3 linked regions of the Homo sapiens genome follow. The main gene of each other region encodes a partner of the protein of the gene in region 2 in a complex. Each region holds a gene or a part of one and is shown on either strand. Other genes may lie near its edges.

Region 1 (7,691 bases), on a different chromosome or scaffold from region 2:
TCTCCTGCCTCAGTCTCCAAGTAACTGGGATTACAGGCATGCGCCACCATGCCTGGCTAATTTTGTATTTTTAGTAGAGACAGGGTTTCTCCATGTTGGTCAGGCTGGTCTCGAACTCCTGACTTCAGGTTGTCCGCACGCTTCGGCTTCCCAAAGTGTTGGGATTACAGGCGTGAGCCACTGCGCCTGGCTGCCAGTCTTTAATGATAAAAACTTAAAGTGGAATTGGTGATAGTATTTGCTTTTTTTAGCTTTAGTGATTGCCCTCTAAACAGACATCTAAAGAAAAACTTCAGCTGACTGAATACCGATTAACTGTCTTCTAACAGATGACATTTTTCCTCTGAGGAAAATTTTTAAAAATAATTTTAGTTTTGAGGCCAGGTGCGGTAGCTCACACCTATAATCCTGGCACTTTTGGAGGCCGAGGTGGGCGGATCATGAGGCCAGGATATCGAGACCATCCTGTTTAACATGGTGAAACCCCGTCTCTACTAAAACTACACAAAAATTAGCCGGGCATGGTGGCATGTGCCTGTAGTCCCAGCTACTCGGGAGGCTGAGGCAGAAGAATGCTGTGAACCCGGGAGGCGGAGGTTGCGGTGAGCCAAGATTGCGCCACTGCACTCCAGCCTTGGCGAGAGTGCGAGACTCTGTCTCAGAAAAAAAAAAAAAATTAGTTTTGAAATAATTTTAAATTTGCAGGAATTTGCAAAAATAGTGCCCCCCCAAAAAAAAGTTTCTGCATGTCTTTCACCAAGCTTCTCCCGATGTTACATGACCTTAGTGCAGTTATTGAAACGAAGGAGTTAACATTGACACAGTACTATTAACTAATTTGTCAGTCGTATTTGCATTTCATGTTTTTCCATGAATGTCCGCTTTCTGGCTTAGGCTTAGTCCAGGATCCCCCATTGCATTTCGTCATGTCTCCTTGGTCCCTTCCAATTGGGGGTCTCCTCTGTCTTCCATGCCCTTGACGCTTGAAGAGTAGTCACCAGTTATATGGTAGACTGTCCCTTGATTTGGCTTCGTTGGCTGAAGAAAATAATTTAGCAAGTATTTCACAAGTAGAGATCTCCGTTTCGCTGGTGGGGATGGTGTTGAAGGAAAAGCTGACCTCTACACGTGTTGTTTGCTTCTCAGTTTAATGGCTATGCTGGGAGCCTCTTCTCAAGTGGACCCTACGAGAAAGATGATGAGGAAGCAGATGCTATCTATGCAGCCCTGGATAAAAGGATGGATGAAAGAAGAAAAGAAAGACGGTAAAAGAAATTGTTGCCTTTCACAATATTTATCCAAGTTTAAAAAAAAGTTTTGTGGCCAGGCGCAGTGGCTCACGTGTGTAATCCTAGCACTTTGAGAGGCTGAGGTAGGACGATAGCTAGAGCCCAGGGGTTTGAGACCAGTGTGGGCAACGTAGGGAGACTTAATCTCTACAAATAATTTAAAAATTAGCCAGATGGTACACACCTGTAGTCCCAGCTACTTGGGTGGCTGAGGTGGAAGGACCGTTTAAGCCCAGGAGGTAGAAACTGCAGTGAGCCATGATCATTCCAGCCTGGTTGGCATAGTGAGACCCTGTCTCAAAAAAAAAAAAAAGTTTTGTTTTGAATTGTTTTATATTTGGAGAAAAGTTGCAATAGAGTATGTGTGTCTGCTTAGCTTTTAGGCCACCTGAGGGTCTTGGTCTGTCGTAGCCATGCCTGGATAAGCACTGGGCTGTTACAGAACAGCCTTAGGGCCTGGGGGCTGCAGTGGAGAGCTTAAGAACTCTTAAGTTTTTCCAGAAATCAGCAGAATTTTGTGGATTACTTTTACGATACATCAGGGTTACCATCTTTGAAATGAAAAGGGCCTACTGACTTGATTATTATATGTTGAGTAATTTGCAAATGAATTAAAGATGTTAAATGACACATACAAGCTACCAAGATTGAACCATGAAGAAATCCCAAACCTGAACAGACCAATAAAAGGTAATGAGATCAAAGCTGTAACAGAAAGTGTCCTAGCAGAGAACATCTCAGGATCTGATTGCTTCATTGCTGAATTTTACCAAATATTTGAAGAAGAACTAATACCAATTCTACTCAGACTATTCTGAAAAATAGAGGAGGGAATACTTCCAAACTTATTCTACAGAACCAGTATTACCCTGATACCAAAACCAGACAAAGACACACTGAAAAAAGAAAATGTTAGGTCAGTATCCCTGATGAACACTGATGCAGAAATCAGCAGAATACTAGCAAACCATATTCAACAACACATTAGAAAGATGGTTCATCGGCTGGGCGCAGTGGATCACGCCTGTAATTCTAGCACTTTGGGAGGCCGAGGTGGGCGGATGATGGGTCATCTGAGGTCAGGAGTTCAAGACCAGTCTGGCCAACCTAGTGAAACCCAGTCTCTACTAAAAATACAAAAATTAGCCGGGCATGGTGGGTGGTGTACGCCTATAATCCCAGCTACTTGGGAGGCTGAGGCAAGAGAATCGCTTGAACTCGGGAGGTGGAGGTTGCAGTGAGCCGAGGTCACAACACTGCACTCTAGCCTGGGAGACAAGAGCAAGACTCCATCTCAAAAAAAAAAAAAAAAAAAGATCGTTCATCATGACCAAGTGGCATTTTGCCCAGGGGATACAAGTGCAAGGGTGGTTCAACATATGCAAATTAATCAGTGTTATACATCATATCAACAGAATGAAGGACAAAAACCATATGATCTTTTTTTTTTTTTTTTTGAGACGGAGTCTCGCTCTGTTGCCCAGGCTGGAGTGCAGTGGCGCAATCTCAGCTCACTGCAACCTCCACCTCCTGGGTTCAAGTGATTCTCCTGCCTCAGCCTCCTGAGTAGCTGGGACTACAGTTGCCCGCCACCACGCCTGGCTAATTTTTTGTATTTTTAGTAGAGACGGGATTTCACTGTGTTAGCCAGGATGGTCTTGATCTCCTGACCTCATGATCCACCTGCCTCGGCCTCCCAAAGTGCTGGGATTACAGGCGTGAGCCACTGCGCCCGGCCTAATCATTTTAATTGATTCTGAAAATGCATTTGATAAGATTCAACATTCCTTGATGATAAAAACTCTCAAAAAACTGCATATAGAAGAAACATACCTCAGGCTGGGTGTGGTGGCTCACGTCTGTAATCCCAGCACTTTGGGAGGCTGAGGCGGGAGGACTGCTTGATCTCAGGAGTTTGAGACCAGCCTAGGCAAGAGGGTAATACCTTTTCTTTACAAAAAAATACAAAAATTAGCCAGGCTTCGTGGCACACACCTGTAGTCCTAGCTACTCAGGAGGCTGAGATGGGAGAATTACTTGAGCCCAGGAGGCAGAGGTTGCAGTGAGCTGAGATCATACCACCACACTTCAGCCTGGGCCACAGAGCGAGACCCTGTCTCAAAAAAAAAAAAAAAAAAAAGGGGGGGGGAGCATAACACAATAAAAGCTATATACAGCTGGATGGGGTGGTTCACGCCTGTAATCACAGCCCTTTGGGAGGCCCAGGCAGGCAGATCATTTGAGGTCAGGAGTTTGAGACCATCCTGACCAACATGGTAAAACCCTGTCTCTACTAAAAATCCAAAGATTAGTTGGGTGTGGTGGCTCAGGCCTATAATTTCAGCTACTCAGGAGGTGGAGGTTACAGTGAGCTGAGATTGTGCCACTGCACTCCAGCCTGGGCAACACAATGAGACTGTGTCGCAAAGAAAAAAAAAAGCCACATATGGTAGGCCCACAGCTCGTATCATACTGAATGGGGAAAAACTGGAACGCAACAAGGATGCCCACTTTCACCACTGTGATTCAACATTGTACTGGAAGTCCTAGCTAGAGCAGTCGGACCAGAGAAATAAATAAAAGGGCATCCAGATTGGAAAAGAAGAAGTTAAATTATCCTTGTTTGCAGATGATATGATCTTATATTTAGAAAACCCTAAAGACTCTACCAAAACACTATTGGAACTGACAAATTGATTAAAGTTGCAGGCTATGCCCCCAGGTGTGGTGGCTCACACCTGTAATCCCAGCACTTTGGGAGGCTGAGGGTGGGTGGATCACCTGAGGTCAGGAGTTTGAGACCAGCCTGGCCAACAAAGAGAAACCCTGTCACTATTAAGAATACAAAAATGGCCGGGCACGGTGGCTCACGCCTGTAATCCCAGCACTTTGGGAGGCCGAGGCAGGTGGATGACTGGAGGTCAGGAGTTCGAGACCAGCCTGACCAACGTGGTGAAACCCTGTCTCTACTAAAAAAATTACAAAAGTTGCCAGGCGCTGGGACTCACGCCTGTAATCCCAGCACCTTGGGAGAGTGAGGTGGGTGGATCACTTGAGGTCAGGAGTTTGAGACCAGGCTGACCAACATAGTGAAACCCTGTCTCTACTAAAAATACAAAAATTAGCTGGGTGTAGTGGCACACGTCTGTAATCCCAGCTACTCAGGAGGCTGAGGCAAGAGAATTGCTTGAACCTAGGAGGCAAATGTTGTAGTGAGCTGAGATTGCACCACTGCACTCCAGCCTGAGTGACGGGGCAAGACTCTGTCTCAAAAAAAAAAAAAACCAAAAAACAAAAATTAGCCGGGTGTGGGGGTGCACGCCTGTAGTCCCAGCTAGTTGGGAGGCTGAGGCAGGAGAATCGCTTGAACCCAGGAGGTCGAGGTTGCAGTGAGCTGAGATTGCACCACTGCACTCCAGCCTGGGTAACAGAGTGAGACTCCATCTTAAAATAAAAGAAAATATCCATACTACCCAAAGTAATTTACAGATTCAATGCAATCCGTATCAAAATACTGGGGACATTATTAACAGATAGTGAAAAAATAGCCAGGTGCAGTGGCTCATGCCTGTAATCCCAACACTTTGGGAGGCTGAGGCAGGTGGATCACTTGAGGTCAGCAGTTCGAGACCAGCCTGGCTAAACCCCATCTCTACTAAAAATACAAAAATTAGTTGGGCATGGTGACAGGTGCCTGTAATCCCAGCTACTTGGGAGGCTGAGGCAGGAGAATCACTTGAACCTGGAAGGCAGAGGTTGCAGTCAGCTGAGATCGTGCCATTGCACTCCGGCCTGGGCAACAGAGTGAGACTCCGTCTCAAAAAAAAAAAAAGAAAAAGAAAAAATAATTCTAAAATGTACATGGAGCCAAAAAAGACCCAGAATAGGCAAAGCTATCCTGAGCAAAAGGAACAAAACTGGGGGAACACTTGACTTCAAATTATACTACAGAGCTGTAGTAACAAAAACAGCATAGTACTGGCAGAAAAACAGACACATAGACCAATGGAACAGAATGGACCCAGAAACAAATAGGTACCTCTACAGTGAACTCATTCTTGACAAATGTACCAGGAATATTTATTGGGGAAAAGACAATCTCTTCAATAAACGGTGCTGGGAAAACTGGATATCTATATACAGAAGAATGAAACTAGACCCCTCTCTGTCACCACATACAAAAATCAAATTAAAAGACTTTAAGACCTCAAGCTGAAACTACTAGAAGAAAACATTGGAGAAACTCTACAGGACATTGGACTAGGCAAAGATTTCTTGAGTAATACCCCACAAGCACAGGCAACGAACGGAAGCCAGGTGTGGTGGCTCGCTCCCGTGAGCCAAGAGTGCGCTACTGCACTCCAGCCTGGGCCACAGAGACTGTCTCAAAAAGGAAAAAAATAAAAAGTTCTCATTATAGAATATTAGGAAAATAAGAGTAAGTATGGGTAAAAGCATAACATTTATTCATAAGTCTAGAAAGTAACAGTTAACATTTTGGCTCATTTCCTCTTTCTGTTGCTTTTTTTTATCTTGGCTCACTGCAACCTCTGCCTCCCGGGTTCAAGCAATTCTCCTGCCTCAGCCTCCCAAGTAGCTGGGATTACAGGTGCCTGCCACCACGCCTGGCTAGTTTTTGTATTTTAGTAGAGACGGGGTTTCACCATGTTGGCCAGGATGGTCTCAAACTCCTGGCCTTGTGCTCCATCCACCTCGGCCTCCCAAAGTGCTGGGATTACAGACGTGAGCCACTGCGCCCAGCTCTGTTGCTTTTTATACATGTAATCATAACTTCCTGTGATGTATGTAGAATGTTTTATTTTTTGAAGATAATTTTAGAATAGTAAAATATAGTTCTTCTGGAATTTTATTTATTTTTTATTTTTTTGAGTCTCCCAGGCTCAAGTGATTCTTCTGCCTCAGCCTCCCAAGTAGCCGGGATTATAGGCACGCGCCACCACACCTGGCTAATTTTTGTGTTTTTAGTAGAGACAGGGTTTTACCATGTTGGCCAGGCCGGTCTTGAACTCCTGACCCCAAGTGATCCACCCGCCTCAGCCTCCCAAAGTGTTGGAATTACAGGTATGAGCCACCGTGCCCAGTCTTGCCACACACTTTAAACAACCAGATCTTACGTGATGTAAACTTGCTGCCTCGAGGACAGCACCAGGCCATCAGGGGTCTGCCCTCAAGACTCAAGTGGCCTCCCACCAGGCCCCACCTCAAACATTGGGAATTATAATTCAGCATGAGATTTCATGGGGACACAGATGTAAACCATATCCTTTGGCCTCCCAGAGTGCTGGGATTACAGACATAAGTCAATGTGCCTGGCCTGGACATCTTTTTAGAAGCTCGTTATTAAATCATTGTGCATAAATTTTATACCTATAGTAATTAAACGTGAATGGCATTGCATTTCACTTTTTTTTTTTTTTGGATACAGGATCTTACTCTGTCACCCAGGGTGGAGCGCGGTGGCTTGATTATAGCTCCCTGTAACCTTCAATTCCTGGCTCAAGCGATTCTCCTGCTTCAGCCTCCCAGGTAGCTGGGATTACAAGCACGTGCTACCACACCCAGCTAATTTTTCTTTTTTCTTTTTTTTTTTTTGAGATGGAGTCTCACTCTATTGCCCAGGCTGGAGTGCAATGGCGCAACCTCGGCTTACTGCAACCTCCGCCTCCAGGGTTCAAGTGATTCTCCTGCCTCAGCCTCCCAAGTGGCTGGGATTACAGGCATGCACCGCCACGCCCGGCTGATTTTTGTAGAGATGGGTATTTTTAGTAGAGACGGGGTTTCACCAATGTTAGCCAGGCTGGTCTTGAACTCCTGCCCTTGTGATCTGCCTGCCTTGGCCTCCCAAGGTGCTGGGATTACAGGCTTGAGCCACCACGCCAGGCTCACACCCAGCTAATTTTTGTCTATGTTGCCCAGGCTGGTCTTGAACTCCTGGCCTCAAGTGATCCACCTGCCTCCCCTAACCTTGGCCTCCCAAAGTGCTAGGATTACAGGCATGAGTTACTACACTCAGCCCTACATTTTAAAAATTGATTGGAACCTCCAGGGTTAATGCATTTTAAAAAACATCAGGCTGGGTGCAGTGGCTTACATGTGTAATCCTAGTACCTTGGGAGGCCAAGGCAGGAGGACCACTTGAGTCTAGGAGTTCGAGACCAGCCTGGGCAACATGGTGAAACCCTGTCTCTACAAAAACAAAATTAAAATTAGCCAGTTGCACATGCCCGTAGTTCCAGCTACATTCCCAAGGCTGAGGCAGGAGCATCGCTTGAGCCTAGGAATTAGAGGCTACAGTGAGCTATGCTTATGCCACTGTGCTCCAGCCTGGGCAACAGACCAAGGCCGTGTCTCTAAAACAAAAACAAAACAAAAAACAGCAGG
Region 2 (7,691 bases):
ATTTTATATGTTGTAAATATTTTTCTACCTTTGTGTTGATTTAATGTTTTTATTCTTTTATGTTGAGTACATGTGTATCTTCTATTTTTAAAATGTGCTTATTTCTATTAACTAGTTCTTTATTATAAAAGTGGTACATTATCACAAAAATAGTGAATGCTTATTAAGATTTAAAAAATTGTCTGACAACACAGAAGAATACTTACTCAAAATGTCTCCTTTCTATTCTCTGATCCCTTAGAACCACTCTCTTTAGGTAATTGCTATTAACAGTTTTTCACATATCCTCCTAGAAAATTTTCATGCCTATATAGTGATCCTATATATATATTTTATTTATTTATTTATTTATTTTGAGACGGAGTTTCAGTCTTGTTGCCCAGGCAGGAGTGCAATGGCGCGATCTCAGCGCACTGCAACCTCTGCCTCCCAAGTTCAAGCAATTCTCCTGCCTCAGCCTCCTGAGTAGCTAGGATTACAGGCACGCACCCCCACGCCCGGCTAATTTTTGTATTTTTAGTAGAGATGGGGTTTCACCATGTTGGCCAGGCTGGTCTTAAACTCCTGACCTCGTGATCTGCCCACTTTGGCCTCCCAAAGTGCTGGGATTACAGGCATGAGCCACCGCACCCAGCCAAGTAATCCTATATTATAAGAGTCTAAGGGTCTAGAGGACAAAAAGTCTGTAGGTCTTTACATTGTCAAGAACAATGAGATTGTAAGTATTTTTGGATGATAGTAAATACCTCTCCCTGACTCTTAGAGTAAACTTTGGTTAGTAATGTAATGGTTAATGTAAAGTGCTAGACTTTGAAGAAATGTAAGAGTGTGGAAATATTTCTAGACTCATCAACTCTACCTTTTAAGCATTCATCTATTTGTTTACTCCAGAGGCCTTTGTTTATAGAGAGGAAACCATTTTGGATTCATCTTTTTACTTGCCACTCCATTCAGGCAGCTGCTGATGCTAAAATGGAAGACATAACTAAACTTTCCCTTCTCCAGAGTTCGAAATTTGAGCAACCCAGCCAAGAAGTTCAAGATTGAAGCCAATGCTGGGCAACTGTACCTGACAGGGGTGGTGGTACTGCACAAGGATGTCAACGTGGTAGTAGTGGAAGGGGGTGAGTCTGAAAAACTTGAGGGAGACTGTCCCCAGACAACCCTAGGCTTAGAGTGATTAGCATTGTGGGGAGAAAGGAGAAAAAGATCGTATTTTAGTGCCATACCTGATATAATATGCTAGGTCTCTGCTTCTGTGTTTTTTGGAGTAGAAGGCCCTAAGATGTGGTTCCTGAGATTGCTTCAACTACCACATTAATGTCTGAGCTCAGAGGTTCTTTCTACCCCATCATCTTCCACAGTTCTGGCAAAATTATTCTTCTCTGTTTCCAGGCCCCAAGGCCCAGAAGAAATTTAAGCGTCTTATGCTGCATCGGATAAAGTGGGATGAACAGACATCTAACACAAAGGGAGATGGTGAATGGGGGTTAGAGGGGATTAAGGGGGAGAGCTATGGGAGGTGGGGATGGTGCATCTGTCCGTTCATCTTATTTCCTCCCTGTGACACTCTTGATAACACTAGATAGTGTTCAGGAATTTTAGAAAGACCCGTTTAGACTTTGAGCCTCCTAGACATTCATACAATATTTACTACATGATTATATGCATGAATGGTAAAGCTATTTTTTTGCCTATCATTTAAGGCTTTTCTACCAGCTGGTTTCTGTGTCTGTCCTGGATCTGAGTACCGGTTACATGAATTTATTCAGTATTTGAAAATTCAGCAAGCAGCTAGGCATGGTGGCTCATGCCTGTAATCCTAGCACTTTGGGAGGCTGAGGCGGGCAGATTGCCTGAGGCCAGGAGTTCGAGACCAGCCTGGGCAAACAACGTGGTGAAACCCCATATCTACAAAAAGTACAAAAATTAGCTGGATGTGGTGGCACACACCTGTATTCCCAGCTACTCAGGAAGCTGAGGTGGGAGGATCACTTGAGCTTGGGGAGGTCGAGGCTGCAGTAAGCTGTGATCGTGCCACTGCAATCCAGCCTGGGTGACAGAATGAGACCCTGTCTCAAAAAAAAGAAAAAGCAAATCTAGTAAGCTATACATTCATGTGTACAGTGTCTATATTATATTATTATTTGATTTTTTTTTTTTTAAGGATTGAAGCCAAAAAGATCTTCAGGTCAAAAAAGCTCTGCTTTGATCAAACTATTTCTTTTGTCTGATATATATATATACACACATACACATACATACACACACACACACATACATACACACATGTACACACACATACACATACACACAATACACACACATACATGTACATGTACATACTCACACATATGCTCTTCAACTTAATGATGGGGTTAGTTCCAATAAACCTGAGATAAATTGAAAATATTGTTAAGTCAAAAATGCATTTAAGGCCAGGCACGGTGGCTCACACTTATAATCTGAGCACTTTGGGAGGCCGAGGCGAGCAGATCATTTGAGGTCAGGAGTTCGTAACAGCCTGGCCAACATGGTGAAACCCCGTCTCTACTGAAAACACAAAAATTCGGGGCGTGGTGGTGGACCTCTGTAATCCCAGCTACTCGGGAGGCTGAGGCAGGAGAATCGCTTGAACCTGGCAGGCGGAGGTTGCAGTAAGCTGTGATCGCACCACTGCACTGCAGCCTAAGCGACAGAGCAAGACTCCATCTCAAAAAAAAAAAAATGCATTTAATACATCTGACCTACAGGACATCATAACAGCCTAGCCTTCCTTATACTTTCTCAGAATACTTAGATTAGCCTACAGTTGGGCAAAATCATCTAACACAAAGCCTATTTTTATCTCATGTAAGAGTATTTTACTGCATATTGCTAGCCCAGGAAAATCTCAAAATTTAAAATTTGAAGTACATTTTCTACTAAATATTTATCACTTTCACACTATACTCAAGGCAAAAAATTGTAAGTCAAGGACTGTCTGTCTATATTTGAAGGCCAGACATTCTTCTGGCCATCATACTCCCATTAGTGTTCATTCTTCTCATCTTTGAACACCTGGATTAGCATTTAAAATCTGCAGAGAGGCCTGGTGTGATGGCTTATGCCTGTAATCCCAGCACTTTGGGAGGCCGAGGCGGGTGGATCACCTGAGGTCAGGAGTTTGAGACCAGCCTGACATGGTGAAACCCCGTCTCTACTAAAAAATACAAAAATGAGCTGGGCGTGGCAGCGTGCGCCTGTAATCCCAGCTACTCGGGAGGCCTAGGCAGGAGAATCACTTGAACCCAGGAAGCGGTTGCAGTGAGCTGAGATCATACCACTTCACTCCAGCCTGAGTGACAGAGCAAGACTCCGTCTCAAAAAAATAAAAATATAAATAAAATCTGCAGAGAGTTCATCTTAAGATACCTGAGAATAAAAAATATTTTGTTCTACACGTGCATTTTTTTTTTTTTTTTTTTGAGATGGAGTCTTTGCTCTTTTGCCCAGGCTGGAGTGCAGTGGCACCATCTTGGCTCACTGCAGCCTCCGCCTCCCAGGTTCAAGTGATTCTCCTGCCTCGGCCTCCTGATAAGCTCGGATTACAGGCACCTGCCACCACACCTGGCTAATTTTTGTATTTTTAGTAGAGATGAGGTTTCGCCATGTTGGCTAGGCTGGTCTCAAACTCTTGACCTCAGGTGATCCACTCACCTCAGCCTCCCAAAGCGCTAGGATTACAGGCGTGAGCCACCACGCTGGCCGATAATTTTGATTTGGTATATCTGCCCTCCTCCTCCATTGGGTGAAAGTTTTTTGAGAGTAATATATGATGTTGACATATGAAGCCTGCCTCCCAAAGTGCCTAGGACAAGTTTTTATTCTTGACTGCTTGTCTTTTATTTCCTTATTCCCAGTACCTGGTGGAGCTCTTGATTCATAACAAGTGCTATGTAAATGCTAATTGTATCAATTAATATTACTGCCTACTTGGAGCTTCAAGTCTAATTTGGGGAAAATAAAGAGCAACAGAAAAGAGAACACTTGGTCCAACACATAAAAAGGGTGATAATATTTTAGAGAGTTTGGGTAGACTTGAATATTATTTGTTTAGAACCTGAATCTCAAGTCTAAGTCTGTAACAAGATTTCTCTTCCAGATGATGAGGAGTCTGATGAGGAAGCTGTGAAGAAAACCAACAAATGTGTACTAGTCTGGGAGGTAGGTGATCCTTTGTAAAACATTGTAAAACTTTAGCCAACTCCTGAATATTTATACTATTTGAGTGGAGCAATGGAATGTAAGATGTAATCAGTGAATAATGTTTTAAATAATTTATGTTTCTTTTTGGAATCCATTTTTAAATGGTTGGCAGTAAATTCTTCCTGATCATCTGTTTAATTAAATTCGTGAGTATTTAGTATATGCTATCTGGGGAAGTGCGTGGACAGTGCTGCTGGTAGCAGGAATACAAATTCTCTACCGAAAATTATTTATTTCACAGTCATGAATATGAGACTTGGAAACGGGAATGAATTGTTGTTGGATTTACCTTTGGATATAGTGAAGGAAGTACTAGACTTAAGAATATAAAGTTAGGAGGCTGGGCAGTGCTGCTTATTAGCTGTGCAATCTGGGCAAGACACTTAATGTCAAATTCTGTTGCCTTAGCTATTGTTCTCTATATTGTCAAGTTTTTGAGAATGAAATTAGATAATTATGTGATAGTGCTTCATAAAATGTGACTGAATCACTCTTCAAGTGGAATATTTTTTATGGTTATCTAGTTCTTTAACCCCTGAAGCCTTCTTAGAGAACCAGTATTAAAACCAGTATTAATGTTTTCATGTTTGCTTTTAGGTATAGTACATGTATATCTTTTTTTGGGGGCGGGGGGGCGGGGGGCGGTATGGAGTTTCGCTCTTGTTGCTCTTGTTGCCCAGGCTGGAGTGCGATGGCGTGATCTCGGCTCACCGCAACCTCTACCTCCCAGGTTCAAACGATTCTCCTGCCTCAGCCTCCCAAGTAGCTGGGATTACAGGTGCACGCCACCATGCCCGACTAATTTTTGTATTTATAGTAGAGACAGGGTTTCTCCATGTTGGTCAGGCTGGTCTTGAACTCCCAACCTCAGGTGATCCGCCTGCCTCGGCCTCCCAAAGTGCTGGGATTACAGGCATGAGCCACTGTGCCCAGCCCCTCCATTTCTTTTTTTTTTTTTTTGAGAGAGTTTTGCCCTTGTTACCCAGGCTGGAGTGCAATGGTGCAATCTCAGCTCACCGCAACCACCGCCTCCTGGGTTCAAGTGATTCTCCTGCCTCGGCCTCCCGAGTAGCTGGAATTACAGGCATGAGCCACCACGCCTGGCTAATTTTGTATTTTTAGTAGAGACGGGGTTTCGCCATATTGGTCAAGCTGGTCTCGAACTCCTGACCTGAGGTCCGACTGCCTTGGCCTCCCAAAGTGCTGGGATTACAGGCATGAGTCACTGCGCCCGGCCATATATCTTCTATTTTTAAAATGTGCTTATTTCTAGTATATGTGCTGCTGAAGCGAGCAGTAAAATGTGCTTATTTCTATTAATGAATTCTTTATTATAAAAGTGGTACATTATTACAAAAGTAGTAAATGTTTATTAAGATTAGAAACAAATTCTAATTATACAGAAGAGTACTTACTGAGACCCAGCACAGTGGCTCACGCCTATAATCCCAGCACTTTGGGAGGATGAGGTGGTTGGATCACTTGAGCTCAGGAGTTCAAGACCAGCCTGGGCAATATGGCGAAACCCCGTCTCTACAAAAAATACAAAAATTAGCCTGGCCTGGTGGCGTCTGCCTGTAGTCCCAGCTACTTGAGAGGCTGAGGTGGGAAGATTGCTTCAGCTTTGGAGTTTGAAGCTGCAGTGAGCTGTGACTATGCCACTGCACTCCAGCCTGGGCACCAGAGTGAAACCCTGTCTTAAAAAAAAAAAAGAAAAAGTCTCAGGCCAGGTGCAGTGGCTCATGCCTATACTCCCAACACTTTGGGAGGCTGAGGTGGGCGGATTACGAGGTCAGGAATTCGAGACTAACCTGGCCAACATGGTGAAACCCAGTCTCTACTAAAAATACAAAAATTAGTGGGGCGTGGTGGCCAGTGCCTATAATCCCAGCTACTTGGGAGGCTGAGGCAGGAGAATCGCTTGAATCTGGGAAGCGGAGGTTGCAGTGAGCCGAGATCGCACCATTGCACTCCAGCCTGGGTGACAGTGCGAGACTGTGTCTCAAAACAAAAGTCTCTTCCTATTCGCTGATCTCTTCAGACCAGTCTTTATAGGTAATTGCTATTAATAGTTTTTCTTCTGAAGGAGCAATCAAAAAATAAAAATTAAAAAAAAAGGTTTTCATGTATCCTGCCTTATCCCAGATTCTTCAATTTATGCATACAAATTAGATGATAATAACCATAGTATTTGTTCTCTGTTTTATAAGTTCCCACCTGCATATTTGTTATCTTTTTTTAATCAACTTTTTTTTTTAGAGATAGGGTCTTGCTCTATTGCTCAGGCTGGTGTGCAGTGGCGCAGTCATAGCTCGCTACAGCCTTGAACTCCTAGGGACAAGCAATCCTCCAGTCTCAGCTTCTCAAGTATCTGAGACCTCAGGTCCACACCACTGTGCCTGGCTAATTTTTTTTTTTTTTTTTTTTTTTTTTAGAAATGGATCTCACTATGTTGCCTAGGCTTGTCTTGAACTCTTAGCCTTGAGTGATCCTCCCACCTCAGCCTCCCAAAGTGCTGGGATTATAGGCATGAGCTACTGTGCCCAGCCCTACCTTCACATATCTCAGCACCCTCATCTTTCAATTTTCTTCTATTTATCTCTGAAGAGTACTTACTGAAAAAGTCCCGGCTTCTTAGAGAACCAGTATTAATGTTGTAGGAATTTAGTTTTCAGGAATTGTCTCTCATGTTCAGAAATAAGCCAAGTTCTGCTCCAGCCTCCTTATTGGAGTCTACTCCCTGAACGCCTCTTGAGGTATTGCTTTATGACTGCCATTGCTGCTGGTAACTTTGGCAAGAATGCCATTCTGCCCAGTACTGTCTTTTTCTGTTGTAATTCTCTGCTGGTACCTGCTCTTCTTCTGTTCCCCGCCCCCAGTTGTTCTTTGTTGCTGGGCCCCAAAGCCTCCTGCTTATATAAATAGTTTCTGGGGCCTTTTTGAAGGCTCAGATTTAGTCCTTAAGGCCTGGTAGGAGATAAGTTTATCTCATTCCACCTTCCATAGTTCTTCCTGACTTGCTGTTCCACCCAGGCACCAGAGCAAATAATTCCTCACTTCATTTCAAAAAACTAAAAGCCTTATGCATATGAATTCGTAAAATCTCATACAAATATCCAAGGAGGCCGGGCGCGGTGGCTCACGCCTATAATCCCAGCACTTTGGGAGGCTGAGGCGGGAGGATCACGAGGTCAGGAGATCGAGACCATCCTGGCTAACACGGTGAAACCCCGTCTCTACTAGAAATACAAAAAATCAGCTGGGCGTGGTAGCGGGCGCCTGTAGTCCCAGCTACTCCAGAGGCTGAGGCAGGAGAATGGTGTGAACCCGGGAGGCGGAGCTTGCAGTGAGCCGAGATCGTGCCACTGCACTCCAGCCTGGGCGACAGAGCGAGACTCTGTCTCAGAAAAACACAAATATCCAAGGAAATGGAGGTCACAATT
Region 3 (4,063 bases), on a different chromosome or scaffold from region 2:
TGCAATTGCTAATGTTATTCTCCCATCCCAGTTTCTACTTGTTTCTTGTAAAAAAGGAGGTTTCTAAATCTTGACTGTTGATTGACAATTAATGGGCTAAATTTCCCATTAGCAAACACTTTTCACATATACACTAATATTAGTATCTAAATTATATTAAAATCTAATTTGGTAGCAATTGACTTGAAATTTGTGATACTTCAACTTGTGCTAGGTTGTAGTTTTGCTTGTATCACTCATAGTTACTAAAAATGCAAAAGGCAAATTTGAAATAACTATAAAAATAAACCTTTAATGAACTTTTTAATATGCAATACTCAATTGTAAATAACCATTATCTTTACTGAATCAGATGTTTCATTAACTGTTAGCAGTTATTTCGAGTTATTTATATATCACAGAATTTTGAACTAAAGATCATCTAGCTGAATTTCCTTTATATTAAAGAAGAGGAGAAAATCTTAATACTAAGTATGTGTGAGCCTGGAGCTGCCATGGAGCATGTAGAGAGAGTCTCCTAGTTGATACCAACTCAGGAAAGCAGAATCAAGCAATAAAGAGACATTTTGGGCCTGATGACATCATTTCAGCACCTGGATCCAGCGATGCCTAAAGATGTGACTCCTAGACTTTTCACTTACATGAGCCAAAACGGTTCCTTTGCATCAATAAATCGCTCTGTGATGCATTTTATAATGTACAACCAAGAATCTCAATATTTATTATTTTGCATTAAATATCAGTAAGTTTGATATAAAAAGCTCAGTAAAATTCATTAATTTGAGAATGTGTCTATATCATAGTAAAGTTTTAAACCTACATAATTTTCAATATTTATACCTTTTACTGCAAAAATAAAAATGAGTTTATCCTTGCCCTAAAGCTGTAAAATTAAACTCTGTACAATTCTAGTTATTTGAAATATAAAATAAAATTATTGGTCATTTCATGTATACATTTGTGGTAACACTTTAACTTTTTCCCTGTAAGGCCATCTTTTGTATGTTTCTGTTTCCATCAAGCAGGCTTTTAATGCAACTTTATCTTCTGGGTTTCCCTAGTCATAATTAAGGGTTTGGCCCTAGTTCACAAGTAATCTTCCAGCACAAATTTTATAAACAAATGCCCTGTGAATCTGCATGGCATAAATCAAGTCTCTAGATCCTGATCACTTCTATGTGAATTTGTAATATTCTGCTTTTGGACTTGTAAGACCAAGAGCAGACTCCCTAAACACAGAGGAGGCAGTAATTTAGGACAGCTTAAACATTCTGGCTGACTGCCTCATCAATGCTATTTAATAACAGAATTCTGGGGATGTCTTGAAATAGATACATTGGCAGTTTTTTTGTTTTTGTTTTTGCTTGTGTCACACATAATGCTGATGAAGAAACCATGAAGTGTCATATGAAAGGAAGTTACGATTATTATTGGTGAGTACATCAGTTAGAATGGTATTTGGCTATAAGCACTGGAAACTCTGACTGCCAGTGGCTTTAACAGGCAGGAGGAGTTCATTTATCTCGAGAGAAAAGAACAGAAAAGTGAAAAGCAAGGCAGTTCAGACTGGGGCACCTACTCAAAGAAGTGACCCAGTACCCAGGCCACTATTTTCTCTTTGCCATCCTTTTGTTCTAATAATTTGCCTGTCATCTCGTGACTCATATTTTCCATCTAATTAGAATAAAGAAAGATGAAATAGGAAAGTGAGATTATCATATGGGAAAAATAAATGCTTTCCCAACTATAACCAGCAGACTATACTGGCAAAATATACTGCTTGAATGCCATTGGCCAGATCTTTGTCATATGGTTACCCTAACTACAAGGGAGGCTAGGAAGGTGAGGGATTTTTTTCCTTTTATAGTGACATTTTGCCACTCCAAATAAAAAAAGGGTTGCTGTTAGGAAAAAGAGAAGAATGGGGATGGGGTGAACAACCAACAATGCTGCCATTGTGCTAGTATAGAAGCAAGTATCTCAGAGGCAGGTGAAAACAACTTCTATGCCCAAACAGAATTCTTTTTTATCTCTGATATAAAATGCAGAATATGAATTTTAATAAATTCCCCAGGTGAGTCATATGCACATTAAAGTTTGAGAAGCACTGATCTATACTGTCTTTCTACACACTTTTTTACCTTACTTTATCCTTCAGGATTCTGGCGTCAAGTCCCTCCCTATCAGTCTTTAAAAACTGTAGCCTTAAATCAGTAGGGATATAGAAGACATGAACAATACTTTCATCCATCTTGACCTAACTGCCATTTATAGAACGTTCTATCCCAAGACATCAGAATATATATTCTTTTTAAACATTTAATGAAAGGATTTAACTCCCAAACTCCAAAGCAAGATGTTCTAAGAAGACTCATTTAAAAAATTAATCTCAAAAAACAGATTTTAAATTGTACAGGAGAAATGCTTATATGAGAACAGAATTATGGGGCACTCTGAATACTAATTTAAGAAAGAAATATAAACCCCTTTTAAAACTCACATAATTTTCCCATTTCCCTTGAAGAAGATACTAATATTTCTGATATCATATAGGAGTAAAAATTGCGGGGAGGTCCTAATATCCAATATTAATAGAGCTGTGATTATTCAAGCTGTAGACTTAAATTTTTTAAATAGAGTAATGGTTGTTTAGTAGAGATTAATATCTAAATAAGGAAAATGAAGAAAGGGACTAAAAATCAAGTAAATAGGATAATTGAGTTTCAATGGGCAAGAATTTTTATATCATGATTTTACCACTCTGAATATCAAAGTCAGTGATGTCTCCAAAAGGCAAAGGGAAGTGTACCAATTTTTGGAGCACTATAAAAAGTGAAAAGTCATCTGCCAGATCTAACATGGTATACTCTAATGGAAAAATCATCAAGATTCTCTTCCTTTTTATGATTCTATAGTAACAGTTTAGTTGAGAAAATAAATCATAATTTGTGATTTCAAACATTTAATATGTGCACATGTATATTATAATATACTCATCCTTTATATTTATCATGCTTTTTTGAATAAATTTGCCACCTTATTGCATATGAAGAATATCTCCATATTCTTACAGCTGTTTTTCTTGGTTGCTTTCTAATTCCTTTCCTCCCTTATTGGTTACCTATGAATTGCTCAGTTCTAACAATGATTTGTAAATTTTAATACTATAGATATATTGCTGTTAATTATTACACCTAAAAATAAATTATTTTACAGAGGCTACTAAGAATGTCCATGTTTTTTTCTGAGATTCTTGCCATATTTTAAGGGTGATATGTAATTATGGGGATAACGGATGGTATGTAAAAATAGCAAGGACACACTTTTTTAAAAAAGAAAAGTTTACATTTGAAGGAAGCCCTGGACTTTGATGATTTAAGAAGAATTTTAATTATTGTCCTCAAGCAAGATTCAATTTTCTGGTTTGATGGGGCTATATTTTTCATTTACTACAGTAAAAAATAAAGCATATGAAACTATAAACAAGACACCTGCATGTGTATGCTTATCATTGCACGATTCACAGTAGCAAAGTCATAGAACCAACCTAAGTGTCCATGAGTGGTTGATTTGATAAAGGAAATATTTCATATATACATATACATATACACACACATACACACATATGTAACATTTTTGTATATATACACAATAACATTTACTGTTTACACATTGTATATAGTGTATATATAGAGTGTATATATAATGTGTGTGTATATATATACACACATTCCATGATATATAATATATAAAATATTTAAATATATATAATATATAATATTATATATATATATAATGGAATACTATGAAGCCATAAAAAAGAATTAAATCATGTCCTTTGCAGCAACATGGATGGAGCTACAGCCCATTATCCTAAGTGAACTAACTTGGAAAGAGAAAATCAACTATCACATTTTCTCACTTATCAGTGGGAGCTAAACAATGTGTACACATGGACACAAAAATGGAAATAATAGACACCTGGGACTACAATGGGGGGAGTATAAGAGGAGGCTCAGGGTTGAAAAATTACCTATTGGGTAATGTTCACTCTATGAGTGAT

What was found.
Region 1: PRPF3 (region 2) and PRPF6 share a complex: the UniProt entries of both Homo sapiens proteins name them as parts of the U4/U6-U5 tri-snRNP complex.
Region 3: PRPF3 (region 2) and LSM8 share a complex: the UniProt entries of both Homo sapiens proteins name them as parts of the precatalytic spliceosome.

The regions. Positions count from the first base shown.
Region 1 is NC_000020.11:63,983,761-63,991,451, forward strand, and holds part of PRPF6 (pre-mRNA-processing factor 6), read left to right. Parts: intron 1-1,146; coding exon 1,147-1,265; intron 1,266-7,691. UniProt on the Homo sapiens protein: Involved in pre-mRNA splicing as component of the U4/U6-U5 tri-snRNP complex, one of the building blocks of the spliceosome.
Region 2 is NC_000001.11:150,345,013-150,352,703, forward strand, and holds part of PRPF3 (U4/U6 small nuclear ribonucleoprotein Prp3), read left to right. Parts: intron 1-1,005; coding exon 1,006-1,124; intron 1,125-1,395; coding exon 1,396-1,479; exon of another isoform or gene 1,480-1,489; intron 1,490-4,144; coding exon 4,145-4,206; intron 4,207-7,691. UniProt on the Homo sapiens protein: Plays a role in pre-mRNA splicing as component of the U4/U6-U5 tri-snRNP complex that is involved in spliceosome assembly, and as component of the precatalytic spliceosome (spliceosome B complex).
Region 3 is NC_000007.14:118,200,814-118,204,876, forward strand, and holds the end of LSM8 (LSM8 homolog, U6 small nuclear RNA associated), read left to right. Parts: 3' UTR 1-3,222; downstream 3,223-4,063. UniProt on the Homo sapiens protein: Plays a role in pre-mRNA splicing as component of the U4/U6-U5 tri-snRNP complex that is involved in spliceosome assembly, and as component of the precatalytic spliceosome (spliceosome B complex).